Linked DNA regions of Homo sapiens: region 2 is linked to region 1. Evidence: fine-mapped expression QTL. A gene starts in region 1. The other region holds a variant in brackets. All regions are shown on one strand. Distances are from middle to middle. Region 1 holds the start of ATP8B4 (ATPase phospholipid transporting 8B4 (putative)). Region 2 overlaps ATP8B4 (ATPase phospholipid transporting 8B4 (putative)).

Region 1 (15,963 bases):
TATAAAGACATGAAGAAACAGAGAAGACGCACAAAGGGCATGCCATGTGTTGATAGAGGGAGAGTGTGGAGGGATGGGTCTACAAGCCAAAGAATGCCAAAGATTGTCAGCAAGTACCAGAAGCTGAAGAGAGGCATGGAACATATTCTCCCTCAGAACCTCCATAAGAAACCAGCTTTGCCAACACCTTGATTTTGGTCTTCCAGCCTCTAGAACTGTGAGAGAATCAGTTTCCCTTGTTTTAAGCCACCCAGCTTGTGGTACTTTGCTATTCCAGCCCTAGGAAACTAATACAGCGTTCTTGATATGAATTTGACTCCTCAAGATAACAAGAAAAAAAAACAGATTGCATTTAGTGATGGACATGAGGTAGCTGGGGTCACAATTTACTCACACTATTACCTATATGCCCTAAAAAATGTGGCTACTTAACTTTTATTTATTTATTTATTTTTTTGAGACGGAGTCTCGCTCTGTCACCCAGGCTGGAGTGCAATGACGCGATCTCAGCTCACTGCAACCTCCACCTCCCGGGTTCAAGTGATTCTTCTGCCTCAGCCTCCTGAGTAGCTGAGATTACAGGTGCGCACCACCAGGCCCAGCTAATTTTTGTATTTTTAGTAGAGACAGGGTTTCACCATGTTGGTCAGTCTGGTCTCGAACTCCTGACCTTGTGAGTTCTCGAACTCCGCCCACCTTGGCCTCCCAAAGTGCTGGGATTATAGGCATGAGCCACTGCGCCCAGCCTACTTAACTTTTTACAAAGGATCTGTCCTTTTTCACTAACTCACACACTCCAAAGGGTAAGTAGGGAAAAATAATCCCCAATAAACCTTCCACTGATCAATTTACCAACCACAGTCTTTTCCAGTTCAAATAAGCTTTTGATTATTTAGTCTTTTTTAGGGCCTTTGGGTGTCCCTCTCCTCTCCTGCTTCTCTCCAGAATGGCATCACAGAGAACCTGTGTGACTCTGTGACAGTAGAGGGAAGTGGGAGCCTTGGATCCATGCCAGGTCCTCTGGATTCTCTTTGCACAAGCAGATCTTGTCATTTTGGCCCAGGCCTTGCCCTTCATCAGCCACAAGGAGGCAGGAACATAGCCTCAAGCATCTGCAGCCACCTTTCTCCTCCAGTGTTCCATACTGCTCCCAGCTTTGCTGGATCTGATGCTCTGATGGAGAAGGGCACCCTTCAGACCCAAAGGAAATGGGTGCTTAGCCTAGATTTTCCATGTGACTCCAACTCTCTGGATGTTTCTAAAGCCAGCTCCCTCTTGAAGTTTAGCTCTGAAGCTAGGAAAACCCAGGACTCTGGTGTCTGTCTCCATGATTCCCCTTCTTTCGCTGGTCTCTGGCATGACTTAACTCCATAAGTGTTCCTCCTGCTTTTCTGGGGTGATATTAATTCCTTCTTTCCTTGACAGACTGGATACAAAACGAAACACTGGCTTACTCAAAAGAGAAGCTCTGAAGGTAGCACCTTCCTTACCCTGAAATGCACAGAAACATGGGGTTGCACAAGAAGTAGCTCCATCATCTGCTCATCTGCTGTAGCTCCTGGGCCTTGAGACTGGGGCACACTCTACCTAAAGATGGCTCAGCATTGGTGGGGATGTGTGCAGAACCACAGTGAGGCACACCTTGGTATTGTTCATCTGAAATTAATATTTCTTCAAAGACAGACCTTACTGGTGTTTGTTCCTCTCCCTATGTATAATGGGATATCTCTAGAGGACAGGATGGTCCTAGAGCTGCCTTGAACAGTTTTATCTCCCTCCTGCCATCCGATGCTTTAACCTCCTGCTCCAGTGCAGTCTTCTAGTTCTGTAGGATCAATTTCTTTGCAATCGGTATTATAGCACAAGCTGCAGCAGTTTATTTATCTAAGAGAGAATGCGTCTAGGTTGCTATCCTCAGAGATAGTGTGTATAAGGCAACATTTGAGGCCTCCATGACTCAATTCTTGCCTAATCTTTGCCTGGTCTCTGATCCATTAGGACCTAGAAATTACATTGACTGATATACTGAGATGATGGCAAACTCACCTTTGCTCTCCACATTCACGATTGCTGTGGGATGTATGTTTGTGACTCACTCAAGCCATTTAGAATGGAAGCCCAAGTCACAGTAGAGGAAGGCCATTGTTACTGAACTGAACATGGGTCAGTTAATCTGCCTGCCCATGCAGCAAAGCCAAATACTAACACTGGGATTGATTTGCAGTGAGGAAAAGTGAAGCATTTATTGCAGGGTGCTATGCAAGGAGAATTGGGCAGCTAATCTTAAAACCCAAACCCCTTGATGGCTTCCATGTAAGAGTTTTTAAAGGCAGGGAGGCAGAGGTTCCAGGCAGAGCCATAAATCAATACATGGAGGCTATTGGTTTGACCTAAAAAGGGGGAGACATCTTGAAGTGGGGGTCCACAGGTTACAGGTAGATTCAAAGATTTCCCGATCTGCGATTGGTTAAGATTTGTTTAAAAACTTGGGGTCAGCAGAAAGGAATGTTGAACTCTGGCCTGTAGGTATAACTTCTGCCAGGCCCCTCAGGAAGAAATTTAGAATGAAGAACAGTGGTCAGATTTCAGTCTCCAGTTCCCCCTTCCCCAAGGTCTGTTGTGCCAGTGGATGGTGTTTTCCATTTGGTGGCGGGGGGGTGTGGGGGCTGTGGGCAGGTTTCTGCAAAACAGCTCAGGGACATATGTTAAGATGTTATTTTTAGTTTCTATTGGGACTCTAACTTCTTTGGCTATTGTTTCAAGCTATTATTACCTCCTTGCTTATCAGATTGCCTGCCACCCTCCACCAAGCATGGAAATAAAGGAAAATCTTGCGTTTCTTCAATGGAAATTCCAGGCACCTAGCTAGTCCTGAGAATTAAATGAGCAACTTGATAAGTAAGAGAGTAATAGTAGCTTAAAATAATAGCTAAAGAAGTTATAGTCATAAGATGTTTGGTTCTCTACAGAAGCTAAAGATAACATCTTGACATATGACCCTGAGTTTACTTTTCAGAAACTCGGACCTCCACCAAATGGAAATCTTTCTTGCACAAGGTCCAGGAACCTTCTCTTGGGATCTGGATTGGGATCCCTTTCCAGTAACAATATCAGGTCATCGGGACATTTCCTGGGTCTGTTCAGTAAACATTATTAACCTGTTCCCTTAACTGAAACTGTGTCTAAGAATGACTAATCTTCTGGGAATGTAAGATGGAGTTGCTCTGGTTCAAAGGCCTTGGACGCCTCTGACAGTATTAGTGAAGTGTTTTTTTTTTTTTTTTGGACTGTTAGCTTGTTAGGAACTAACAAGACCCTCCCTAACTCATCTACTCATCTTTCAGGACTCAGCTTCACTTGTTCTGAGGGTTTCCCGTGACACCTCCACACCCACACTGAAATATGGCTTCCCCTCTCCTGTAGTTCCGAAGCCTGTTTGGACAAGGGACACCTAAATTAGAGTTACTATCACATTGTGTCACAATTTGTTCACAACTATTTTCTCTTCCACTAGAAGGATTCTTGTTAGGGCAGATATCGACCTAAAAGAAAGAATCCCAGGCAAAATAGATATAACTAGAGGGTTTATTTGGGCCAAGCTTGAGGATTGCAACCTGGGAGCATAGATTCAGTTTTCTGCAGTTACAAGCTGTAGCAGCAGTTACAAGCAGGTTTTTAAAGAAAAGAAGAGGCAGTTTCTAAGTTGTTTACCAAGAATTTACATTAAAAATAACATAAGTTATTGATTGGCTATATGTTGTTTCTTTGTATTAAAATTCCAGGAACATGAAGATAATAGGTGAGGCAGGTAGTCAGGAACAAAATGCCTTTAAACAATTGCCCCCACAGATGGGTTTGGGGGTCACATGACTGAAATCTTAGACTCCTGTCTTTTTGGGCCTGATAAATTTTTCGAACCTCCCGTAGTGCAGACTGCTCTGAGCTATTTTTCTGTTCTCACAGAGACCAGGTCTCAGTTACCTTGGGGTCCCCAATGCCTTGCAGAGGGGTTGATACAGAATTGGGGCTTGGAAAATGGTGAAGAATGTGTGAAATGTCCCAGAGACATGTCCTGATTAAGAGCCTGAACTCCTTTGATCTTGGACCCTACACTTCCCAAGTGTCATATAAGGGGTAGGAAATTTTCACACCCAGTGACCTGGAGGACAGACTAAAAGGGTAAAGAGATGAAGAGCAGAGCGTCTCTTCTCATTGGGATGACAGTTTGCTAAGGAGAAAATGGGGCTGGAGTGAGTGTTAAAAGACCCTAAGTGTCTGGCTGCTCCTTGGGTCTTGGAGATTCTGAGATAACAAGAACCATGTAGCCCTGAAACTGATCCAGATCGGGTTCATTGTTCTACTACTCCTTTCTTGTAAATGCCCTGATTGTTGGAAGGACTTCTTATGATGTCAGTCTATAAAAAAGCGGAGGCCAAAAGTCTTTACTGGATACCCATTATGTGCAAAGAAGATACTATACTCCCCTGATAGCAAGAGATACATTATTTTAGGGAGTGTTTCTCTTGCTGATGCCAACAGCCTATTCCAGGATCCAGTTTTGGCTGTGGAGCATTCATCACTTGGAAATGAATTGTTAGAATGACTTTTACAACTAGAGTTGCCAATAGTCTGGCTTGGTGTTAGGCTGTCTGGTTTAAAGCTGGGTCATCTAGTTCTGGAACACATGGTTCAGATAGTATTTGAAAGGGCAAATTAAATGCAAATCACCTGGTTTTGGTGAGTGGGCTTGCATAACAACAAGCCCTGTAGGATCTATTGTTCTTGCTTGTGTCTGAGTGTCTGCACTGAAAGGGATATTCAGGAGAGCCCTTGAGGGAAAGTCCAGATCACTGTCAGGAGCTGGTTCCCAGAGGTGACATTTAGCACCCATAAATTTAGGTATCTTTTTTTTTCTTTTTAAAAATCTTACCAGCTTAATTGTAATGTAGTGGTGGATTTATATTACTTTAAGTTTAATTCCTGAAATTTTATTAGTAGAGTAGAAAAGTCCTCTACTTCTAAATCCGGGTCTCTATCTGTGGCTTAACTTCTAACTTCTTGTTTGCATTCTCTTATTCTCTTTTTGTTCTTTTCATGAGTTAGTTGAGTAATAAGTAAAACTTAATTGTGAGTCTTTTCATGGAGGATGGAAAATCCCACACAGGAAAGGGCACTACCAACAATGGGTCAGTCGTTTATGTTGGCCAATGTAAAGAAACCTCCTTTATTTCATAAAAGGTTAAGTAATTGGTGGGGAAATTGGGGTGGGGGAGGAGTTGAGTTACCTTCTCTTGGTGAACTTCGGCCCAATACACAGTGGAAAGTGCCAGATAATAAATGAAACTACAAGAGGTTAGAAAACTATACTTTCTTTTTAGATATTAAAGGCTATGAGGGCATATGTTACTTCAAAGACTTGTTGGATCTGTTTTTGAATGGGAGGCAAATTGGTTTCAATCACTAGAGAGAAGGGGGCGTGGTGGCCCAGGAACATTATTAGTGTACTGTACTCCTGTCACCTGCTGAGGTAAGGAGGTTCTGAATAACTGCTCTGGGGTGCAGGAAGAAAATACTAAAACTTTGAATTATCTTTATTGATATCATCCCTTTAAAATGTCTGTTTATGCTGTTTTATGGTGTATGGAAAGGATATGCTTGGGGAATACTGCCCTAGAGAGAGGAGAAGACAGATGGTTGGATCAGGATGAAAAAAACTGGAGATGTGGAGTAGCTCAGAATTCAAAGGTCTCATAACTGCCCAGTGGGTTCTCATTGCCTGCTGCCTGGACAGAGCCAATTTATTAAGACAGGGGAATTGCAACAGAGAAAGAGTTTAATTTACACAGAGGCAGCTGTATGGGAGACAGGAGTTTTATTATTACTCAAATCAGTCTCCCTGAAAATTTGGGGATTGGGGTTTTTAAGGATAATTTTGTGGGTAGGGGGTCAGAAAGTGGGGAATGCTGATTGGTCGAGTTGAAGATGAAATCACAGGAGGTTGAACTGGGTTTTCCTTGCTGTCTTCTGTTCCTGGTTAATTCTGTAAACCATTCAGGAGCAATATGGGGAGGTTCAGAATCTTGCAGCCTCTGGCTGCATGACTCCTAAGCCATAATTTTTAATCCTGTAGCTAATTTGTTAGTCCTACAAAGGCAGACTGGTCCCTAGGTAAGAAGGGGGTTTGTTTGGGGAAGGGCTGTTACCATCTTTGTTGCAAAGTTAAACTATAAACTAAATTTTTCCCAAAGTTAGTTCAGCCTATGCCCAGGAATGACAAGGACAGCTTGGAGGTTAGAAGCAAGATGGAGTCAGTTAGGTCAGATGTCTTTCACTGTCATAATCTTCTCACTGTTATAATTTTTGCAAAGGTGGCTTCAGTCTCCTATCTGTTCTGATAAAGAAAATGTAGTCGCATTTGGATTCTGGAGAGATAGTAAAGAAGATACTGACCTTTGTTAGACAATGGCTTATGTGACAGGTGCTGGGTTGTGTGCTATTTATTCTTATTCTATCACTGCATATACAATTTTCATATGAATGCATACTTTTATCCATTTGTTATTTATTTAATGAATATCTCATTTAATCTTCACAAACAGCTTGAGAAGAAGGTTTTAATCTTCCCAATTTTGCAACCAGGAAGTTAAGGCTTAAGGTGGGTGAGTAATTTACACAATGTTCTATGATTTACACTTCAGCAATTCTCATTCTTTAGTGAGTAGGTTTGCAGTGTAGACTCCAGTGTAGACTTTAGGAGATTCAAGTGGGCTTCTAGTCTGCTTGGAGCAGGTGGATAGTTCAAGAATATGCTTATAGAATTATGAAATACTTTGTTCTGATTTTCTTTCATTATTTAGTGCATATTCCCAAATTGCAATTTTAGGCCAGAGCTACTTCTCTGCTGTTTAGGCTGACACCAAGGACTTGGTTTGACATTTCAATCAACTCAATCTTCCCTTGTTGGCCTTAAAAGCAAGCAAGCAAACAAACAGACAAACACAACAAAACCTAAAACTTCTGTTATGACTAAATTCCAGGTAATCAATTAAATCTTAATTTATTTTATTGTTATTAAATTGAATTGACATAAAGTGACTAAATCTACTATTTGTCAATCCCATTCTCAATGTCAGAGACTTAAATTGCAGAATCTCCTCATCTGCACATCTGATTCCTTCCAGCAGCTGATAAGCATCACAGGAGCAGGAATCATATTTTGTTCATCTTTTCTATGTCCCACAAAGTGTCTAGCAGAGTATTTGCATTTGTTGAATGAAAATATGTTAGATCAATTTCTTCCAACTGTAGATTTCAAACTATAGGCCAGGCCATCCCACTTGTTACAGGTAGTTAATCTGTTTATCTAAAACCATAATTCATTGGCTTTCTTAGCTATCTTGGCAGTTAGGCAAGAGATATTTACAGGTTCTAAGAAACATAAGATGCTATTTATTCCGTTGTATATTAGACTTATAGTTGTGTGGTTTCAGATTCTTAAGAATAAAAATTTCCATCTCTTCGTTTTGATGAAATGTGTGTAAAGTTGGAGAACAAGGTAAAAGAGTGAGTAAATTCAGAATTCTTTTTTTCTCTCAAATGCTCAGATACTTAATTAAAATTCCTTTAATATGATCACGAGATTTTTGTCAGGACAAGTTGAGATGATCCTTGAGAAAGCACTTTGAAAACTCTAGACTACAGACATAAAGGACGTTTGTCAAAAGTAAGGCTTTAAAACAAAATAAGGCCTCTTGAAAACACAGACCTGGCGTTCTGACAGTGCACATACTGCCTAATAGGGATGAAAGTTTAAGCTCTGTTTAGCTACCTTTGTATAATGGGAATAAAAGGTTTTTTTTTTCTTGTATCCTAAATCGAGAATTTAAACTGTTTTCTGATTAGCAAGGGTTTGCAGTCACACTAGTAATAGTCCTCTATAAGATGGACATCCTTCTCTGTTCCCCGTCTTTCTACTCCTTATGAAGAAAAAGTAGAAATTTTTGAAAAAGTTGTGCTAGGTATACATAACATGACATTTATCATTTTAACTACCTTTAAGTGTACAGTTCAGTGGCTTTAAGTACATTCACAGTGTTGTATAACTATCACCATTATCCATCTCCAGGACTTTTCCATCATCCCAATCTGAAACCCTGTACCCATTAAACAATACCTTCCCATACTCTCTTCCTGCAGCCCTTGGTAGCCTCTACTCTTTCTGTCTCTGTGAATTCACCTATTCTTCTTGCTGAGCCTTGCTGTTATCATTATTCATTCGACATTATTCATTATTCATGAGTGCTTATTATGGACACCAGGAGTTCAACAGTAAACAAAAGTCCCTGCTCTCAAGGAGCTTTTATTTTAGTGGGAGGGAGACAATAAACAGCGAGCACATTTAAAATATTTTTTAAAAATGAGATTATCTTATACACAATTCTTCTGCAACTTGATCTTTTCACTTGACAGTACATCTTGGACATCTTTTTCTATGTCAGTCTGAAGAGGCCTATCTCTTATTTATAATAGCTAAATTTATTGAGTCTCTACTTTGCTCCAGGCACTGTTTTAGTTGCAACAATCCTATGAGGTAAGTTCTATAATGATCATCTTTTTACAGATGGCCCAGATAAGTGTAGGAGCTTGCATAGTCACCTGGCCAGTCACTGGTGGAGACAGAACTAAACTCAGATGACCTGATTCCTTACTCCAATTCTACCCTCTTTTGAATGGCTACATAGTACTCTTTTGTATCAATATACCTTAACTTATTTAGGCAGTCTCTTATATGTAAGCCATTTTTAGGTGTTTTTTTGTTGTTGCTATCATAGTGCTATAATTAACATATTTAGAGATATGTTTGCACGTGTGTGTGGTTTTCTATAAGGTAAATTCCTAAGAAATAAAAACACATACACATTTCAATACTTGATAGGCACTACTATACTCAGTTTCCTTTAAAAAATATTTTACCAATTTATATTCCCACTAACAGTATAGGAAAAGGAAAAGGCCCTGATTTCCTTATATCTTCTTTAACAAAGGGAATTACCAAACTTATATTTGCCCCATATGATAGGTTTAAAAATGGTATAGAGGTGATACTTAAAAATGTTTTTCACTTAAAAGTGTTTTTTATTTTAAATATTTTAAAGAGATGATTGCTTCCTGCTCTAAGCTGTTCTTGGTCCTCTTTTATCATGTAAGAAAGAAAGCCATCTCTCTTATTTCCAGAAATCTGTAGTTTCTTGTTACTGTGGAACCTTGGTAGGAAAAGGCCCTTGTTTCTGTGAAAACCTGAGGGCCCAGCGTGAGGATGTTCCAGGAGAGTGGAGTTGATGGTGCGCAGGGGATTAGCTTGCTCTGGTTATAGAGACATGATTAAAATCTATTTGATTTCAGTACTTAACTGGCAAATCTGATGCAACTTCTGGAAAATTCCTAGATGGCTTTAGGCATATTTAAAAGAAGCCATATTTTTCCTTTTAAAAATAGATATGCACCAAAATATTTTATTTTCATCTAATCCCGCTTTAACAACCAGAATCCCCTTAAAAGCAATTCCAAACTAAAAGATGTAAATCCATTTCCTATGTGCATTTGTTCTTTGGTACCATCAGGGTTAATGTTTGCATCCTCTGTGCTGAAATTAAGGATGTTGGGAAAGAAGTGTCATTGCTTTGCCTACTAAATGTCACTTGAGTATGCTTAGCTTTCATCCATAAGAGAGCTGAACTTCCCCTGTAAAAAAAAAAAAAAAAAAAAAAAAAAAGTGACAAAAACCCACTGCTGATTCTTTCATCTCTGCAAAAGCAGGTGGGAACTGCAAACAGATTTGCTTATCTTCCTCAGTCAAGGGCTGGTAAAAGTTTGGTAAGTAGGCCTGGTAGCCGGTGTCCCCTTCCATTGTTCATTTTCATCCTCCTGAATTCTTGATTCCCACAGAGGAAGCCATCCTCAGAAGCCAGCCTCTTGGGAGTTTCCTTTTGTTTCCCCAAGATTAACCAGTTCTGTCCTGTCAGCAGGAGCAGGCAACTAGGGGAGGAGAGGCTCTTCAGGGCTTTCAGCATTTTTCCAAGGAGTGCTTTTCTCCCTCAATTCCTCACTGACAGTGAAGCTGCTTTCTTGTAAGGTCTTCCTCTTCTTCTGATGAGATGCTGATTCTGATTGCCATCTAGCAGCTTCCGGTGGTGGTAAGTGGTCAAGAGTGTTTTTCCAGGAGTTGATCTCAGGTTTTTGAGAATGCCCCCTAGAGACCCAGTTTGTTTTCTGTATCATCCCTCAAGCTTTCAGAGTAGCCTTGCTTTTCTCCTTGGCATGGTCACGGAATGGATACCTGTTTGATCTTCCTGCACTGCTGAGAAATCTTCCTTTTGGGGGAGAGGATTAAGTCTGGGTTGAGGTGAGTAGATGGGTAGCATTCAATGGTTAGTGAGATGAAGTGGAAATTTAGCTGTGGGCTGGTTGGAACGATCTGTTTCTTTTCTCCAGATCCCTATTTTGTTTTGCTGTTTTCATCTTGGTGACTAAGGTTTCACAAATATTCTTTATTATTCCCCTTTTGCTAAAAAATAAATTTGGGGGAGTTAGTTGGAAATGGGAGATGTGACATTTTCTTTTTTGTTGTTTGAAATGTCTATTTTTTACTCTGTTAGCATGCCTATTAAATGACCAATGATAGTAGCATAAAGGTACATTTCTTCTTGGTTTGTAGGTCTTTGTCACTTCCTTTGGTAGTAGTTGGTTTTATTTTTTTCACGGGGTTTGTATACAGTGCACCTATTCAATATATTGTTTATGGTCAATTTATGCTTTAGACATGAACAGTTTGCACTGAGCTATCCCTCTGAGGTTTGAGGGTTATGTTTTTAGTGCTAAAATTTGTCTGAACAGAAAAAGGTATCCTTCTAGTTGTTTTGTTTATAGGCAAGAGAGTGTCTCAGGTCCCTGGTTAACAATTAGCTGTTTTGAAGAAAAGAAAACTGGTGAAAAACATTAATTGGAAGCTGAAGTCTTGTTAGAAAGTAAATGAGGAAACACAGGTTTTCTTGTGGGATTACCAACACCTGTGCCCATGAAGTATCCCCTTTTACTCAGCTGTTGCTCCATGCTGGCCTTTACTACAAAATGTAAACTCAGAGTGATTTCAGTTTTGATTTTTTTAAATGTATTTTTTATTTTTTATGTGATATGTAATAACTGCACATATTTATGGGGTACATGTGATATTTTGGTATATGCATACGATGTGTAATTAGCATATATATCACCTCAAACATTTACCATTTCTTTGTGTTGGGAACATTCCAAATCTGCTAGCTATTTTGAGATACAATAAATTATCATTATCTATATCGTTTATTTTATCGTTTATATCTATATCGTTTATTATAAATAAAAAATAAATTATCATTATCTATTGTCATACTACCGTGTTATCAAATACTAGAACCTGTTCCTTCTATCTGACTGTATGTTTGTACCCATTAACCAGCCTACCTTCACCCCCTTCTTCCTCTTCCCCTTCCTAACCTCTGGTAACCACCATTCTCCCTCTCTACCTTCATGAGATCAACTTTTTTAGCTCCCACATATGACAGAGGATATGTGATATTTGTCTTTCTGTGCCTGGCTTATTTTGCTTAACATAATATCCTCCAGTTCCATCCATGTTGCTGCAAATGATAGAGTTTTATTCTTTTTCATGGCTGAATAATATTCCATTGTATATAAATACCACATTTAAAAATTTTATTCCTCAAGAAGAAATATTATTGCTTCCATATCTTGGCTATTGTGAATAGTGCTGCAATAAACAGGGGAGTACAGATATCTCTTCAAGGTACTTATTTCCTTTCTTTTGGATGTATTCCCAGAAGTGGGATTGCTGGATCATATGGTGGATCTGTTTTCACTTTTTTTGAGAAACCACAGAGTGATTTATTTTAACCTATATTGTGCCTTTATATTGTCTCATCATGCAGAAATATTTAAAAATGAGGGAACAAATGATTTTTTTTGTGCCCCTGGAGGATTTTTTTGTGGGTGGGAGAATTTTATTTTTTTCATATGTGGCATATTGAATATTTTCATTTAGTAGGAAAAGAGTTAACTAACCATCTAAAAGTAAATTGGAAATTGTAGCTGTCATTGAAATTAAACTTAATGTATGTTTGGCCAGATGCAGTGGCTCATGCCTGTAATCCCAGCACTTTGGGAGGCTGAGGCAAGTGGATTACTTGAGGTCAGGAGTTCGAGACTACCCTGGCCAACATGATGAAACGCCCTCTCTACTAAAAATACAAAAATTTACCAGGCATGGTGGTGGGCTCCTGTAATCTCAACTACTCAGGAGGCTGAGGCAGGAGAATCGCCTGAACCGTGTGGTGGAGGTTGCAGTGAGCCGAGATCAGGCCACTACACTCCAGCCTGGGTGACAGAGCGAGACTCTGTCTCCACAAAAAAATAAATAAATAAAAAATAAAAAACAAAACTTAATGTGTGTAATCTAAATTCTTGTATAGCATGAGTAAGAATTAGAAACAAGTATTTATTTTTAGAATCTCTCATGAAAAGATATTAAAAAATAGTAACCTCCTAGCAACATTATATATTTCAAATATTAATAAATTCTAATTAAATATTAAATATTATTGATCATTATGTTTTTGGAAACATGTTCCTTCCTTACTTTAAAGCTACCTTGCTTTTCTCTCTCCTTTTATTTACTCAACTGGAGTTTGAGTACCTACCCAGTGCCGGGCACTGTACTAGATGCCTAGGGGAAAAGGTCACAGAGGGAGGGCCACAGCATTTCATTTCAATGGATCCTTCACTGACCTTTCTTTTGAAGTTGAGCGCCCTCTAGAGCTCTGTCCTTGTTCCTCGTCCTCTGTCCTTTCCTCACCTCTCTTTGTTCTTGTCCTTTCTGGGTGAGGTCATTCATTCCCCCTTGACTTCACTCCTTCCTTATATGTTGATGATTCCAAGTCTACAAATCTGTCTTTTTGTCTTTAGTGCTGTGAGGATGTTTTCAATGATCAAGAGGCATTTTAAGCCCACATGTTCAAACTAAATACATTATTTTTTCATCCCAATTCCTTCTTCTGCCCCTCCACCTTCTCCTCCTTTTCCCTTCACTGCTGTATTTATCATCATAGTGGCACCTCTATTCCCTCAGTGTCCCAAGGCAAAAACCTGGAAGTCACCCCAGATTCCTCCTTGTTCTGCATCCAAACACACAGACCATTTATTTTATTTTATTTTACTTGAACAGACAGGGTCTCACTATGTTGCCCAGGCTGGTCTCTAACTCCTGGGCTCAAGCAATCCATCTGCCTCGGCCTTCCAAAGTGCTGGAATTACGGGCATGAGCCACCATGTCTGGCCCATACAGATCATTTATAGACTGCATATTTAACTATGGAAACATTTCTAGAATTCAGCCCCATTTGCCAGTTGTCATTGCTCCTCCATCTCCTCTTGTGCCAGCCCAAACTGTGAGATTAACCTTCCTAAAATCCCTGACAGCCTGGACTGGCACAGAGAGACAAAAGGGAACAAGGATAATGGAAAAGAGGGCTGAATTCTAATTGTGCCATTCTACTTAGATACCTCTTCTGTCTCCCCGCAACCTGCAGGAGCAACCACAGGATCTTGACCATGGCAATGCTCTCTGTCACCTTATCTATAAAATGGGGATAACGGTAATTCCTGCTCGTAGAGTTTTGGTGAGGACTGAATAAGACAACACGTGTCAAGTTCTTAGCACAAGGCCAAGTCCCCAGTGAATGGCAGTGACAATGAGGACAATGATGAAGATGATCCTGTCTTTCAGAATCCAGCTCTTACCTGCCTTGCCAGCCCCATATCACTGCACATTCTTCCTATGCCTGTATGATCTGCTTGCCATGACTATCACTGCTCCGCAAACCTTCCTTCCCTTTCACAACACTTGGCCTTTCCTCACGCTGTTCCTTTGACTTGTCCTTACCTTGTTTTATTTAGCAAGCTCTTCTTTTCCTTTTAAAAGGACTCAACTCAGAATTGCCATCTGTGAGGTCTTCGCTGACTCTGCAAAGCAGGCTTGGTGACTGCCTTTCCTCTGCCTCCATAGTTCTCCATCCCTCCTTCTACCATAGCCCTGCACTCATCATCCTTTTTTAAAATTTTTATTTATTTATTTATTTTGAGACAGGGTCTTCTGTGTCACCCAGGCTGGAGTGAAGTGGCACAATCACAGCTCACTGCAGCCTTGAGCTTCTGGGCTCAAGTGGTCCTCCCACTTTAGCCTCCCAAGCAGTGGGACTGGAGGCATGAGCCACCATGCCTGGCTAATTTTTTGTAAAGACAGGGTTTCGCCATGTTTCCCAGACTGGTCTCAAACTCCTGGACTCAAGTGAGGAGATAGAGGGCATCTGCCCACCTTGGCCTCCCAAAGTGTTGGGATTACAGGTGTGAGCTACTGTGTCTGGCCTACACTCACGATTCGAATGGTCTTTTATGTTTCTGTCTGCTCTCATCTTCCCCAGACTGTGGGCTTTTGAAAGACTGGAAATGAATTTTTGCCTCCCTCATGCCCAGCCCATGTTAGCTATAGAGTAGGCACCTGATAAGTCTTTGATAATTGAATGTCAGTAGAGGGAGGACATGGTTCTCAAATTTGGTAGGAGGTTTTTTCCATGTGGAGAGTTAAAAAAATACATTTTAAGAAAAATAAAAATAATCATCGCTTTCCCTTATTGAGTACTAACTTTGTGGCAGCAGGCATTGAGCTAATTTCTTTATGGAGATGGCTTGGTTTAGTTTTCCTAGTGATCCTATGAGTTACTCTGATTGTCCACAGAGGAGAAAACTGGAGCTTAGAAGGGAGGGGAACTTGCTTGAGATTCTAGGGTTAACAGGAGCAAACTTGGGCGGCCTAACGCCAGCACTGGTGGAGCAATAGGGAAGTGAGAAGAGGAAGGAAGATGGCCAAAGCAGGGTTGAGAGAAGAGGGACAGGATGAGGACAAGGAGGGGAAAATGAGAAAGAGACCAGCAAGAGCAGACTAGGAAAGGAAGAGAAGGGAAGGAGAAAAGGAAACTAGAATGCATTTCTGTAAGTACTTCCAATGTTGCCTGAAGTTTTGATTGAAGTAACTCAGGAATGGAAAACCAAACATCGTATGTTCTCACTTATAAGTGGGAGCTAAGCTATGAGGATGCAAAGGCATAAGAATGGCACAGTGGACTTTATGGACTCAGGGGGAAAGGGTAGGAAGGGAGTGAGGAATAAAGGACTACAAATTGGGTGCAGTGTATACTACTCATGTGATGGGTGCACCAAAATCTCACAGATCACCACTAAAGAACTTACTCATGTAACCAAACTGTTTCCCAATAGTCTATGAAAATTAAAAAAAAAAAAAAAAAAAAAAAAAGAAACTAGGAGACCAAGAAGGAAAATGAACAGGGGATATGTGAGAGGACGAAGAGAAGCTTTGAAATGTTGTGGCTGGGTAATGGCTGCATGACTAGAATATAAAGAGACTCCTGTATGGACATGACAACTCACAACAATTAACCTGCTGTATGTTATACAGTAAATATAACAATAATTTATTGTTGAGGCACGGTAATTGCATATACCTGTAGTTGCAAGCCATTTATAAATTTGGCTTTTTTTTTTTTTTTTTTTTTTTTTTTGAGATGGAGTTTCGTGTTGTTGCCCGGGCTGGAGTGCAATGGCATGATCTCAGCTCACCGCAACCTCTGCCTCCCGGGCTCAAGTGATTCTCCTGCCTCAGCCTCCTGAGTAGCTGGGATTACAGGCATGTGCCACCACGCCCAGCTAATTTTTGTATTTTTAGTAAAGACGGAGTTTTTCCATGTTGGTCAGGCTGGTCTCGAACTCCTGACCTCAGGTGATCCACCCACCTCGGCCTCCCAAAGTGCTGGGATTACAGGTGTGAGCCACCGCTCC
Region 2 (15,963 bases), 55 kb after region 1:
CTCTTAATATGCCTGGGCTGCTTACAGATATCACCTTTGGTTCTAAGACCATAAGGTCAGTGACCTCACTGGCCAGTTCTGTATGGTTTATTTTTGGCTATGTTATATTTTGTGACTTTGTAGCAACAAACCCCACAAAGCATTCCTTGCCAGGATGCATTTGACTTTGTCAGCTCCTTCTCTTAGGAACCACTTGAAGTTAAGAGAAAGGGTCTTTGTGGTGCTGAAGATACATAGAAATTGGAGACACATAATGTTTTGCTTTATGGTTGGCATCAGGAGGACAATGAGAAACATTGTAGCTTTCCATTTTGGGACTTTACAACACATGTTCCAACATGTACACTGGAAAAAGCCAATACCTTCAAATTTGAAAGAAAAGAATTCTTGCAGCCTTAACAACAAAGCAACCTAAGTCTTGTTGTTTTAATGAGTTATTTGTTTCTCTGGGCCTACAATTTAATTTCATACTTGATTTCTCTCTCTTTAGAAGTGGAACGGATAGTGAAAGCCAATGACCGTGAATATAATGAAAAGTTCCAGTATGCGGTAAGTGAAACACACATAACACATACGTACTAGGATAGGTCTTACCTAAAGACAGTGGGATGCATGTCTTCTAGAACTTTATGACTTCACCAAAAACTTTCTTCATTGGCCCATTTTGACAGCAAGGTGACATATATTTCCATAAATACAGATCTTAGTAATGTTTACAAACATATTTCTCTCCCACTAAGAGTAGTTGGTATGCTTATTGTCATGGGAAGATGATAAAATCTCTTCTTTCTCAAGAATTGATGTTTAGCTCATTTTGGTACCCATTTGGTTAGTAGAATCCATAGGAATAATATGAAAATGGACCTTTTTGGTAGCACTTAGTGATGGATGTAGTGACGTTAGCTAGTGGTTGATGAATGGCATTTGAGGGATTTTCTCTAAGCAACTCAGGCTGAATGTGGAAAAATATATGTAAGATAAAGTTCCACTCCCACCATTCTGGAAGACAGTGTGGCAATTCCTCAGGGATCTAGAACCAGAAATACTATTTGACCCAGCAATCCCATTACTGGGTATATACCCAAAGGATTATAAATAATTTTACTATAAAGACACATGCACATGTATGTTTATTGCAACACTGTTCTCAATAGCAAGGACCTGGAACCAACCTAAATGCCCATGATTTGGGCATAGACTGGATAAAGAAAATGTGGCACATATACACCATGGAATGCTATGCACCTATAAAAAAGAATGAGTTCATGTCCTTTGCAAGGATGTGGATGAAGTTGGAAACCATCATTCTCAGCAAACTAACACAGGAACAGAAAACCAAACACTGCATGTTGTCACTCTTAAGTGGGAGTCGAACAATGAGAATACATGGACTCAGGGAGAGGAACATCACACAGCAGAGCCTGTCAGGGCCTAGGGAGCTAGGGGAGGGATAGCATTAGGAGAAATACCTAATGTAGATGACGGGCTGATGGGTGCAGCAAACCACCATGGCACGTGTATACCTATGTAACAAACCTGCACATTCTGCACGTGTCCCAGAAGTTAAAAACACACACACACATATATATACACACACACATATATATATGCGTATATGTATAGTGTGTGTGTGTGTGTGTGTGTGTGTGTGTGTGTATATATATATATATATATATATATATATATATATATATAGAGAGAGAGAGAGAGAGAGAGAGAGAGAGAGAGAGAGAGAGAGAGAGAGAGAGAGAGAGGCCGGGCACAGTGACTCATGCCTGTAGTCCCAACACTAGTTTGGGAGGCCAAGGTGGGCAGATCACAAGGTCAGGGGTTCGAGACCAGCCTGGCCAATATGGTGAAACCCTGTCTCTATTAAAAATACAAAAGTTAGGCATGATGGTGGGCGCCTGTAGTCCCAGCTACTCGGGAGGCTGAGGCAGGAGAACCGCTTGAACCCAGGAGGTGGAGGTTGCAGTGAGCCAAGATCGCACCATTGCACTCACTCCAGCCTGGGTGACAGAGGGAGACTCCATCTCGAAAGGAAAAAAAAACAAAAGATAAAGTTCCCAGGTCCTGAATGATTGTATTTACAGAATGATTACATGTGTGGGCTTTAGGCTTGTACTGAACAGTTTAAGTGAGGATTTTTTTCATTGATGTAAGGAATATTTATGGAATGTCTACTAAGTGACTGGCACTGTTGTAAGCTACAGTGGTGAACAACTTCATGAATTACATCATGGGCCTTCATAAAGATCTTATTCTTCTATGACTCTGTGTAAGTTGCTACCTGGAATCTTTTATAAGCTCTAAGATAGAAAACTGGTAGAGTAGTTTCTGTAGGTGATATGTGGCCTATAAGACCTGTTGTATGATTGAGTTTACCAGCACATTTAATGAAAGAAAGTCTCAATTCAAAGAGGGGTTTGATGGCTATTAAAGCATAGAAATATGAGAGTCCCAGGGGCAAACTTTGGCAGTGTCCATTAGGTACCAACTAGAGGAGAGAGAATTTTGGTCAGTGGAGTTTTTTGTGTGTTGTTCCTATTGGCAGATCTTTCCCATATATGGAGATGAATGCATTGGGCTATTATAGCTTGATTAATTATTAATCAATTATTAATTAATTAATATTAATATTTATTAATATTTATTAATATTTAGGAGAGGTAGCTTAAATTTCTCTTTTTTCGTGCTGTGCTAGTCATGCAAACTTGTGATTATAATTTGATTTTCAATGTAGGTTTCCCTGTAGGAATTCAGTATGCCACCTCCATGACAGATTTCTCATTGTAGAACAATATACTGGCATTCTGATTTTATTCATCAGTCTTGTAAGCTTGGTTAAAGTAAGTCTGCTCTTGAGACAAGAAATCCCTCTCAGGAGGCTGATCAACATGCTTCTTAGCCTGGGAGAGGGAGGGGCTATAATTCCCCAAGGTGACAAATGTCACTCTGTATGGCCTCCTGACATATGGTCATTCAGCTTCTCCTGGTGAACACCAGACTTGGCCCCATGCCTTTTCATCCATTCTATAGCCAGTCCTTTAACTGTGGAGAATGACCTCTGAAAGGCTTGACCATCAAGTCCCAAATCAGAGAGCTAGATACATGTATATTTAAGACCTTGAGAAAAATACCCAGCAATAACTAATCTGCTATGGGGTAATTATGCATTTAAGTACTTGGCTGCGTTTACTTGTTTTCCAATATGCAACAAGTATTTTCCTTCTGTGAGTAGTAACCCTATAAGGAAAGCCTTATTTCGTTTGTGCCTTGTAAAGTGATACGCTCTTTTCAATTTACAATTATTTTTGCTTAATTAATGGAATATTGCAGACTCACAGAGAAGCACGGGGAATAACAACATACCATTTGCCTACCACCCATATTGAATAGATGTTAACAATTTGCCATTGCTTCAGATCTTTCTTTCTTTTAAAAGTCATAAAATGCTAATGATATAGACATGATTTTCTCTTGAGTTTTCATGATATTGAACAAAAGCACGCACATGTGTGGCTGTGGCTCTTCTGTTGGGTTTCCTAACAATCACAAGGCAGTAGAGGAATATCCTGTGGCTACAGCAGATTGAACAAGGTAGCTCCATCTCTGAGTTAAAACATACCAAGATGGGCTGGGCATGGTGATTCATGCCTGTAATCCCAGAACTTTGGGAGTCCGAGGTGGGTGGATCACGAGGTCAGGAGTTTGAGACCAGCCTGGCCAATATGGTGAAACCCTGTCTATACTAAAAATACAAAAATTAGCCAGGTGTGGTGGTGCGGGGCGTGTGTAGTCCAGCTACACAAGAGGCTGAGGCAGAAGAATTGCTTGAACCTGGAAGGCGGAGGTTGCAGTGAGCCAAGATTGTGCCACTGCAGTCCAGCCTGGGTTACAGAGTGAGACTCCATGTCAAAAAACAAACAAAACAAAACAAAACACAACACAAAAAACCAAGATAAAATCAAATTCCACTATGGGTTGGCAAAACCAAGAATGACAGCAAAAGTGGAGAAAGAAAACTACAGAGCAGAGAGGGGCACAGATATCCCAGATTAAAGGACTTCCATTGTGGCTCAGAGAAAATGAGCACCTGCCATGCTCTTAGGAGCATGGGACCCCCAACTACACCTAGGTGGTGTTGCCTTGGTTTGGGAACACCCAAAAGGATGCCTGGCCATGCAGTGAACTGTGGAGCCTCTCTCAGCCTCAGTCTATTCTGCTATATGTTGGGGATAATCAAAGTACCTATTTAATACAGTTATTGTAAGGAGTAAAGTAGAGTAAAATACAACAACCCTATGAGCTAGTCTAAGTAGAGCTGGGATTTGAACCTATGCCTATCTGATTTTAAGCTTTTTTTTTTTAACCCCTAAACGGAATATCCTTTTAAGAAAGGCAGCATCCTGGTGTCTTTTGCTCAGTCTTGCCCAGCTTTAAAGAATATCACTCCAGATGGAAATGAATTTGGAGAGACTTCAGCATATCCCAGGGAGAGTGCTAATAATAATTAATAAAGATAGTGATAATGATAGCTTAAAACAGGTAGGGCTCACCATATGAAAGGCATGGTTCTAAGCACTGTACTATATTAAACTTATTTAATCTTATAACTAGTCCACGAAATACTCTTATTTCTTACTTTTTTATTACCTTTTTTAATATATGGAAATGTTAAGCCATTGAGATCTCACTTAAGTGACTTGCTCAGGGTCACACAGATAATAGCTCATATCCATACAGCTTGAACCCAACTGTGTACCAGGTGCTTTGAACGTATTTCAGGCTTCCACAAAACTTGCTGAGATGAAGATGGGGCTCCATTTAGTAACTTGTCTAAGTCATGCAACTAAAAGGTAACAAAGCTGGAATTCTAGTGCAGACTGGCCAGATTCTAAAACCTATATTTTTTTTCATGATGTCATGTGGCTCTTTTGAGCATTCTTGGAAAACAAACAAAATACAAATAAAACAAAAAAACAATCAACCAACCAAACAACAACAACAAAACAAACCCTAATCACTTTGCCTTTCCTCATATAACCACTGGTAAAGTTCTTATATTCTAAAGACAAAAGTAGATAAAGGAGATACACAATTTTACAATCTGAGGCTAAGAGTGGCCTTAAATATTACCCTGGGCTTTTATAGGTAAGAATTTAGGAGAAAAATTTACAGATAGCTCTGATAAATTGTGTGATTTCCAGAAACATTATGCCCGATCAGACAAACTTTTTTCCTGGAAGGCTGGCAGAAGATACTTCAATACCTCGAGAACCTTCATTTATCAACAAACTCTAAAGCTGCAAATCACATTATAGGACATCGCACAGGTTTAAAAATGATCAAAAGCACTTTTGAGAAATAAAGGTTTAGAACATAAAAGATAAGGTTAATGATTCTAAGTCAAATTAGTTTGTAAATTAGACATGATATTGTGAGAACTGGAAGGTAAAAACGTCAAATTACAAGAGGGATTTAGACTGCCAAAATGTGTAAGACAAAATGGGATTGAAGAGTGGAGGGAAAGTGAGCCAAGTGCTAGAAGAATTATTCTCATTAGAAGGGAGTTCAATGTTTTCTTGGTTAATAATAGGAATGAATAATAGAAGTAGAAAACAGTTGTTTTAAAATATGTTAATGTTAATAATTGTTAAAAGAAAAATTGTGAGTGAGCCAAACAGCCAGACTCATTCCTGTTAAAAGGATTTCAGAGTGAATGGTAGAAGTGGTGAAAACAGTTGAAGTTGTATTAAAATGTATTAATGTTAAAAGATCAGAAAAAGTGTTAGCTTAATTATAGCTATTTTCTGATTTTGTTTAAAAGTTCAAAAAGATGATGATGGAAAGCACTGGTTCTCGTTGGTTCTTCTTCTCTCACTCTCTGTCACATAGGCCCAGGCATGATCTATCCCCATTCAATTCTCTTGAACTTTAACAGAATTTGAGAAGGGAGATTAACTTATTTGAGTGATGAGAAACTTACCCTGCCTCAAACTCAGAAACTTCAGTAAAGCCAAAACACTTAATAAATTTTATCTGAATATATTTAATGCACAAAGGTAGGTAGGCAGTTTTTAAAGGATTTTTTTCCTGAGTGGAGTTATTGATCCCATTTAGGAAGTGCATAGGCTTATGTAAATTGATGAAGATTTAACCAGTAGTTTTACATGCTTAGAAAGAAAGAGTCCCACCTAAAAATTATGATTCTAATGCTGTAGTTTATTCCTAGAATCTGCAAATGCCTTGTTGATATCCTAGTTATTGGATGAAATCTATTTGCTGCTCCCATGATTTTTTGTGGTTGGTAAAACAATGCCCATTTGGATTTTCCAAAGTGTTCATTCAGTGCAACAATGTGGTTGAGTACCTCCAACCCCCAGCAGTCAGTGCTACAATCACACCACTAAGGCTCCCTGCAACATGAACTCCTTTTATTTCCCTCCCGCCCATTTAAATAGGACTTTGTACGTTTCCACAGTCAGCAAACTTCTCTCTCCTCTTAACTCAGAATCTAAGTGGTTGAGAGTAGAGTAGAAAAATATGGTTCACCATCATTCTCAGTGTGTGAGCCGAGATGGTCACTGGGCCTCTTTAGGCCCACATCATAATAATGTATCTGTGTTTCTCTGAGAAAAGACTGGCTTAACAGGAAAATTTCATGTTCCTGTGTGTGGGGTGCATAGACCATTCATTGTCCCCTTTTCTTTAATAGAAATAAAAATAATTTTCAGAATTTAATATTCACAACATACCTGCTCTATACCTAGCAACATGTATGTTTGTTGCCTTTTCCTCATTTATTTTCCAAACAGTATTTGCGGCAATGTACAAAAAGCATATAAAGCTCAAAGGGATAACAATACATGAAGAAGCTAGTGTAGGCAGAATATGTTTAGGTGGGCCCCAAAGTGCATGCTACAGGACGTGCCTGCTTAGACTAGCAGTGTGTTGAGTGCTACTGGAGCTATTAAGAAAGGGGGTACAAATTCTGCTTTCTACCTTCAAGGAGCAGATATAGTCTACTCAGGAAGAGAAGCCCAGCACACTAGAATGAAACTAATAATAGGTAAGAATGAAAAGGTGCTGTGAAATTCTAATTTTGTGATGTGGCCTGTAAATGCTAGGGAAAGGAGAGCTCAAAGTACACGAAAGTGTTTGAGGAAGTTTTGCCAGAGGAAGTGGGAAATGATTCCTGCCTTGTTTATTTGTACCACCACTGTTAGCAAGGAGAGACAGGAGCAAAAGCCTGTAGTCAGACCTTAGACTACAGGCTAAGAGAAGTGACAGTATGTCATGAGGAATTATGGTTTGGGTAGGTGAGAACAGACTATTTAAAAAGAGAGTTTAAACATGAGGTAATTGGCTGTCAGGAGCTGGGGAATCACAAAGTGAAAAGGGATTTTATTTGCCCTCCATATAAAATAGGCCAAATCCCCAAACGGAAATGGCCAGGTTAACACAGAACGTAAGTTGGGTGTGGTGGGAGCTGTAGATTTAGGAATATCGGCTGGAAGGAGAAACTTTGAGCTAGGAGAGAAGTGAGGCTTGTTAAGCAGTGATGGAACTTGCTAAATGTGAGGTATGGGGTGGAAACTCAGTTTGTTAGAGAGTGGGAGGGAAAGAACTTAAGAAGGAACAGAGGACAGCAAGGATTGAAGTGAACGAAGAGAGGACAGTGTAGGAAAGTGTTAAGGAAGGGAACGTCTCAGGAAAGAGGGAGTGGTGAACTGGTCTAATGGTAGGTGCCTATGAGGTTAAGAACTAAGGGAAAACATCTTTAATAGAAGGAAGTAACTGGAGGACCTGAAGAAAGCCGTTTTAATTTTTTAAGAAAGTTGAGGTTTAAAAGTCGGAGGGCAGAAAAAAACCCCACAAACTGTAAAAAAAAGAAAGAGGGGGTGGGGTAGAGCTAATTCAATTAATAGCTTGCAATAAAGAGAAGAGAAACAGTATAAAAGCTTTCAGGCTGACTGAAATTTGGTCAACCATTTTTAAATCAATCTTTTCACATATTTTGGCTTTTTAAGTATGTGTTTAAAATCCATGGAAAGGTAAAACTCCGTAAATATTTTCTTTGGGAGACTCTTGGGATGTCACCATGTTGAAACACATCCCCGGACTGATGGGACATTTGGGTCTCTATTCTTCTTGAGCAGCATAGCTGTACTGCCCACATGATGCAGATCCTCACCTATGGGGCTGATGACCAGATGCACCAACTAAAGAGTACAGATGATGACAAGCAGTGTGACACGTTGGAATTAGTCATGGAAAGCACCAGTAACTTGCATTTGTTATGGGTTTCTGGTTGTTAGTTGTTGCTTTTTTGTATTGGGGCATCACCATAGTAACAGTGGCTTTTTAGCAAACATTGAAAATGGCTTCTGTTTTGTGTGCTGTTAATATCTGTGTATGTTATTCTAAGTTTGACATGGCAAAGGTTTTAATTTTTTTCTTTATAAATAATTTACTTGTAGGAGAAAATATATTTTTTGGATATCTCTCAAATTCATTTTCTTTCTGGATTCAAGAGTATAAAAACATAAATATTTTTTATCTTTTTGACATCTGATTTGTTTAAATAGTGTTATTCTTTGGCTAAGCATTCGTCTGGTTTCTTGTTTCCCTAATTTAGTTTGCCTGTTTTAATCTTTTTTTTTTTTTT[TC/C]TGGCCTCTGAATTTCTATTCCTAAATGTTCTAAAATGGCATATTAAAGTAATTAAAGAATCTAGGTAAGTTCTCTGAGGTATTTGTTTGTTATTTACCTGTTCCAGGCTTGAGATAATTTCAGCATCCTCATAAACTAGTTCCCATTCCATCTGCTTTGAGAAGTAAATTTTAAGTTAAAAAAACAGATTTGGCTTATTTATTTATTTTTATTTTTACTTTCTTCACTGCAATGGTACAAAACTGAAAAGTATGCAAGCAATATGTAATTGGAATTACAAGAGTTAAAATAAGCAATTTTTGATGGCAGAATTTTGCTCTGTTATAGCTTGGCTGTAATGGAATAAATTTAAGATTGAGAAATGAAAAGATTACATAGAAAGAAGAGTAAGTTACTTGTGAAGAAGGAACTATAAATGGAGTTTCCTTTGTTGGCAAATGGTTCATGAAAATAATCCATAAATCAACTGTGTGGATGAAATTGGGCAAGTTTAGTAACAATTGAGAGGTTAACGGAAAAAAACCACTAACCCCAACGGTCTCAAAGTGGTTTTTATCTTGTTTTGCAATCTTCTTTACTGGACCAAATGGTCTGGTTCTGGGAATCTTATTGTTAAAAGATGGTAACAATCATGTTTTACATTTTGTTGTTGAAAGATCAAATCATTTATGTACCAAGGTGATCTTAACTTCATGTCCACTATTATGAAACTAGTACCAGATTACTGTCACATTTTACACCTGATTTTCTATGTAGTTTCTTTTTTTTGACAAATAAAAATTGTATATATTTATAGTACACAACATAATGTTTTGAAATATGTATAAATTACAAAATGGCTAAATCGACCTGATTTACATATGCCTTATCTCACATAACTTATCATTTTTTTATGATGAGAACACTTAAAATCTACTCTCATAGCAATTATCAAATGATATGATTTGGATCTGTGTTCCCACCAAATCTCATGTCGAATTGTCATCGCTAGTGTTGGAGGTGGGGCATAGTAGAAGGTGACTGGATTATGAGGGTGAAGTTCTTATGAGTGGGTTAGCACCATCCCCTCGGTGTTGTTCTCATGATAGTGACAGTGAGTTATCCTGAGATCTGGTTGTTTAAAAGTGTGTAGCACCTCCTCCCTCTCCCTTTTGCTCCTGCTTCAACCGTGTAAGATGTGCCTGCTTCCCCTTTGCCTTCTGCCATGATTGCAAGTTTCTTAAGGCTTCCTCAGAAGCAGAAGCCTCTATGCTTTGTGTACAGCCTGCAGAACCATGAGCTAATTAAACCTCTTGTCTTTATAAATTACCAGTCTCAGGTATTTTGTTATAGTAGCATGAGAATAGACTAATACATCAAGTATACAATTTGCAGGTTTATTACAAAAGTAAGCTACTTAGGCATTAAACTTGAAAATTCTTTAAAAATGATCCAAGACTTGGGCTATATATTTGTCAATAAATCTGTGTCTATTGCATGACTGTGTGCACGGAGGTAGTGTTGTAGTTGTGAGGAAGTGTATACAGTTTTGTAAGGATGTTTTTGCTTGAATAATGAGAGACTGTTCTCAGAGGAATTAAGCAGAGGACAGCAATCAGAGTCACATGCCAAGACTGTTGATCTAAATCTCTAGCTCCTGATACCCTTGACTTGGTGTCTCTAGCAGTCCTGATTGTACTGGGTTTTATGTGTCCTCCTTGGTTGTCAGTTCACATCATTACAGATGTGGCTGTTCAGGTGTCATCTAGGTAAGTTATAGATGGTGACATCATTGTGTACCAATTGTCCAAAAGTTTAGGGAAGAAGGGCTTTTTTTATACAAAAGGAAAAACCTGATTTCTTAGGTACTGCAAGGAAATTAGCTTCAGTACAATACACTGTGGAATCTCAGTGTGGAATTATCCTTTAAAGCTTTTCCATTCAACTCTCTTTACAGAATTCTAACCAACTCCATGTCCTGTCTGTGCTTTTATCCCTTTAGAAGAGGGGACCTCATTACCTCCCCAAACAGCCTTTTCTTTCTTTGGGTAGTTTTAATCATTAGGTAATTTTTCCATCAATTGAGCCAAATTGATATTCTCTTGCTTTATTTTCCATTGTTTTAGCTTTTCTTCAGAGACCAAAGCAGAGCAAACATGTCTTCTGTTTCATGCAACAACACTTCAGATATTTGTGTTTAAAATATCAAACACAAATTCATCAAATAAACAGATCTCCAGGAAAATCACCTGCTATTCCTTTTCTTTTCAAAGAGCCTCAGTTTTTCTATAACTTCTTCAAGTGGGTTCCTCCAAAGTCAAACACAATAGTCTAGAATTTATTTGACCATCTTGAAGTAGAGAAAGATTATTAATACAGTCTAAGACTGTACTATCTTTTCAGTGACTGTTGAGTCTATTAATCTCATATTAATTTTATTTTTATTGTTAATGACAAGAACCGTGTCACATTTATCTCCATATCTTGCTTGTCATAGGGCTTGTTGGCACATAATAGGCACTTACTCTGTCATTAAACTATTCCTTTTATTATTGTATCTATGTGGACTTTAGCATCTCTCTGTATTGTCATTGATAGTTAAACAAATGGGCCAATGAAATCAGAAGCTTTAGGGGTGGAGTCCAGGCATTTTTTTTTTTAAAGCTCCCCTAGTGATTCTAATGGGCAACCTGGATTAATCACTGATCTAAGTTAATAATAAAAATACTGAGCACAACACAATGAAGAACATGGCCATGCGTCTTATCACTAGAGACCTCCCTATAGGTTGCTGTTGGGCCATTAATCATTACATTTTGTTTACTTAGCTAGTTCCAATTTCTATAATGAACTGTCTTTGCTGGCAGCCCAATTTTTGTTTAATTATGTAGTAATATTGCTCTCTGTCTTAATAAGCAGAAAGGCTTTTTTTTTTTTTAAAGACATCTATTATAGTGCTGGTTTAGATTATTTCTACATGTATGGAAGCAGAAGGATAGAATGAATAACTGAACTTTGAAGATTCCTCCCCAAGTCATATTCCTATGATTCTTGCAAACCACTTAGTACCATGTGTGATATTTCAAAGACTCTTGTAGATTCAATACCACAAAAACGCCATTGTCCTAAGAAAGACGATTTTGAGGTTAGAAGCACAAATGAGCTGAACTTCTTTGCAATGCTTTGCAGAAAAAGAAATGCTTTTCTAGGTGAGAAAATGAGCTAAAGGAATATTTGATTTTTTTTCTCCCTTGTACTCTGATATGAGAAAATTAATAAACTGCATGTTGTGCTAAATAATGTGAAAAATCTATATTTGTGCTAATGCCTATCTTTCTCTGGCAAAAGAAGTTCTATAGGTTATGTACTGAAAATTATTGTGATGCATCATTAATTATGAAAAATTATATTAGCTCATGTTATTTTCTCATAAGTGGAATTGTCTTCCTCTCATATATTATTTTGTATTTTTTCCAATTGGGTTTATCAGCCATGTTGTCTTGGACTGTTCTTGCATTGCCATAAAGAAGTACCTGAGACTGGGTAATTTATAAGAAAAGAGGATTAATTGGCTCAGTTCTACAAGGCTGTACAGGAAGCATAGCAGCATCTGCTTCTGGGGAGGCTTCAGGAAGCCTCCAAACATAGTAGAAGGTGAAGGGGGACCAGGCACATCACATGGTGAAAGCAGGAGCAAGAGAGTGAGTGGGAAGGTGACATACACTTCTAAATGACAAGATCTCACTAGAACTCACTATTGTAAGGACAGTACCAAGGGGGATGGTGATAAGCCATCCCTTAGAAACTGCCCTCATGATCCAATCACCTCCCACTAGGCCCCACCTCCAACACTGGAGATTACATTTCAATATGAGACTTGGGTGGGGACACACATCCAAACTATATCACACGTATTGAGTAATTCTTGCTTATCACTTTGTTAAATGCTCTAGACACTTAAAAACGTATAAGGTCTCAGCCCTTCAGGAACTCTTGGAATTTTGAGATTATTTCACATGCATAAATGAAATAACAGTATTAGACATTACAAAGTTAAGTATGAAAATGAATAGTGTTAGCTTATAATAAACATTTTCACTGTATCTGAGTAAGGAAGATAATTTTCTAGGAAGAGATAAATGCATTTCTTTTCTTAAAGTTGTTCATATTGGTAATGTCTTTCAAAGAGAATGAAAGAATGGTAAAATACCATGTTTCATTTATGTAGTGTAAAAATGACCTGACTTGGCTTGAAAACTTCCCAACTTGCACTATACTTTGAATCCCTGTCTGGATTTGGGGAACCATTTGGCTACTCAAAAAGCCAAGTGCCAGTCACATGTTAAGTAGATCTAAACCTAAACTGACTGAAGATGATGAGCTCACTGAAAAGTACTTCCAGGGTATACTGGAATTGAATGCTTTAAATATGAAAAGCAGTTAATTTTTTTTGTTTCTTTAATTCAAATGTGAGTTTTATATAGGCTTATTAAAATCAATCAGATATTTTGACATTGGAATAGTTATGAATTTATGTTTTATCAACAAATAGTTATTACTAAATTCCTGAAACCGTTCAGGGCCTATATGCTATTGCCTGTGGAAATGATGCCTGTGTACTTTGGGATGTACATTTTTTAAAAATAAGAATATCTTTGATCCCTATTCCTTTTCCTCAGCCTGTTATGCTCCTTCTTGCTTCCACATTCCTGTGGAATTTCCTCCATGATTCCTTTATTTTCCAATTTGATGCTTGATCTGATCTTTTTATTTGCCAGAGCTTAAATTGAAAGTGGAGGGAAAAAAATCTGATTTTTCACTGATTTTTTTTTTATCCAATATACTTCTCTTAAAGGATTGAAAACGAAGTCCAGAAAAATATCTTCAGCTGAGTCAAAAGGGCACATTGTACTTCTAGCCTAAATCTCGGAGTAAGGCATTTCAGTGTTTCATCTGTGACATTGATTCAACTCCACGACCTACTGGGGGAATCCAGTACCTCCTAAAGTTCATAGTCTCTAGTGCACAAATGGGACTCCCTTGGATTTGTACTAATTTAACTTATATCAACTTTTGAAAAAGCTGCATGCAACCTTTCCTATATCACAGCAATTTGTGCCTATCAAAACTCTTAGAGCTCTTTAATACTCTGCTTCTTGAAGTGTGGTCCACAGACAGACCAGCATCATTGGCCTCACCTGGAGCTTGTTAGAAATGCAGACTCTCGGGCCCCACCACAAAACTCCAGGTGTATCACTGCATTTTAACAAAAACCGAAATGATTCATATACATATTTGAGTTTCAGAAGTTCTGAACTGATTCTCTCTTATTTTAGTTAGTAGTGCCTGGAAGATTTTGGCAAAAGCAAAGAGGTGGTGGTGGGGGCGGGGCGGGGAAAGTATTTAATTGTCAAGCACAATGCTAAGCACTTTACATGTATTATCTCATTTAATCTTCACAACAACTCTGCATGGCAGGTATTCCCATGCAAATTTACATGGGGGAAATGAAGGATTGGAGGAATTAAGAGAAAGGTCACTTAGTTGATAAAACATGGAATCACTTTTCAGATTCAGGACTCTAAGCCCTCACTTTTTTCTAAATATCTCTTGGGAAAATTGCACTCACTCAAGTATTATTTAATTGGATTGTTGTTTCGTTGTGGTGAATATGAGTAGATTTTTTGGGAAAAATGTCTTCAAGAAGTTCTTGAAGCTTTCCTGAAACCAGGTTTGTGAGGAAGGTCTTTGTTCTTAACCTGCGTGTATTAAGTTTAAGGCTTGAGGTGATCTGTCTTGTCACATAAGTAGTTCCCTTCAGTACGGCATGTCTGCCTGCCCTCCTTCCTTCCTAGTGGCAGCTTTTCTTTAGTTCTGGAATCAGAAAATTTCCTAGAAACCCAGGGGACGCTGTGGGTCATGGCTCTGGCTCGGCCGAGGCAAGTGCCTTTTAGCCTTTCTGGGTTTCAGTTTCCTTACTGAGGGTATAGGCAACTCATTTTACAGTACTGGAAATGACAATTGTGGGAAGAGAATATCTAAAGCAGGCTTGACATCTTGTGGAGTTATATACCAAGAAATATTAACCATTTGGGGAAAACCAGTTTCTAAAAAAGGGCTCAGGCCACAGACCCCTAGGTTTTGCCTCCTCCAGCCCTTCAAGTCCCTTGTCTCATTGATAGCACCCCTGGTCACCCTCAGAGGGAGGGATACTGGGCACAGTTGTCTATTCCTCTGACAAGCCTCCTGATTTTGTTCCTCCAAACCCTCTGACTTCTCTGGCTTCTTCCTCCTGAATAACTGACACACTTGCATAAGTGTCTGGATGAACTTTGTTTTCTAACCCTTATGCCAGATGGAGTGAATCGGGAAAAGGAACATGGATGAGGAATGCACTAGGGAAGAGGATTATGAAGGCAGTGAAATGAGATGGTGGAGGAGGTTCAGGAACTGCAGCCAGAGCCCTTGATTCATTCATTCATTTGTTCATTCATTCATTCATTCAAGGAACAGGGGAAAGGATCTAGTTTGCTTTATTTCACAGTTTTGTACGTTAACAGTTATTCCTAGCTGGCCTTCCTAGTGATGCTCTGGTGGATCATTAACTATTAAACAACTAAGTCACACTGTTATTTGACCTGAAGCCTGGTACTTAGAATTGTTCCCGTAGAAGTGGCTCAGTTGCAAATCAGTTCAGTGACTTAGAGGATCTGGCCTAGTGAGTTTTGATTGGAGACTCGCTGTGCATCTTCTCACCGTGCAGCTCTTGCTCTGCTCAGCATCCACATGGGCTTCTTATTGAATCTCCTTGTTGGCTCCTACAGAAGGCAAATGCCTATTTTTGTATATGTAATCAGGGAACTCCATTGTCAGTCCCCCAAAGCAAATTTATGATAGTCTTTATTTAACTCAGACTATCTCAAGCATAACCTCAAATTTGGTGAAAATTCCTCAAACCCGTTGTGCATGATATAATCACAAAAATTAAAGATTGGCACTTTATTCATAAATTATTATTGATGTGTTTTAATGATAGAAGATGCTTTAAAACTCTTTTTTTTTTCCCTGCCCTCCCCTACCTGCCCCATGTGGAGAATTTTCCTTCTGTATTTCCTGGTCTTCTATTCTCTCCCTCTCAACACCTCTACTCCCAAACAAAAGCCACTCAACAAAAAAAAAACCACAAAGCCAGGTGTTGTGGGTTTGTTTGAATATAGATTTACTCCCCAACCTGGCTGTGAAGGGGCTGGAGACCAGGAAAGGCTAGGACTGTTGCAGGAGAACACCTTCATGAGTGGATCAGGGTCCCAG

The links.
Region 2: its variant is fine-mapped to the expression of ATP8B4 in monocytes (CEDAR, PIP 0.94).

The regions. Positions count from the first base shown.
Region 1 is chr15:50,113,562-50,129,524 of GRCh38, reverse strand. It overlaps ATP8B4 (ATPase phospholipid transporting 8B4 (putative)), which reads left to right and starts at 10,292. Exons shown (of 28, transcript NM_024837.4): 1 at 10,292-10,402. RefSeq lists an enhancer at 12,575-13,088.
Region 2 is chr15:50,058,713-50,074,675 of GRCh38, reverse strand. ATP8B4 (ATPase phospholipid transporting 8B4 (putative)) reads left to right here. Exons shown (of 28, transcript NM_024837.4): 3 at 491-549. Among named protein-coding and RNA genes, the nearest start is that of ATP8B4, 53 kb to the left of the region's middle. The variant TC/C (reference allele first, on the strand shown) is at 8,672.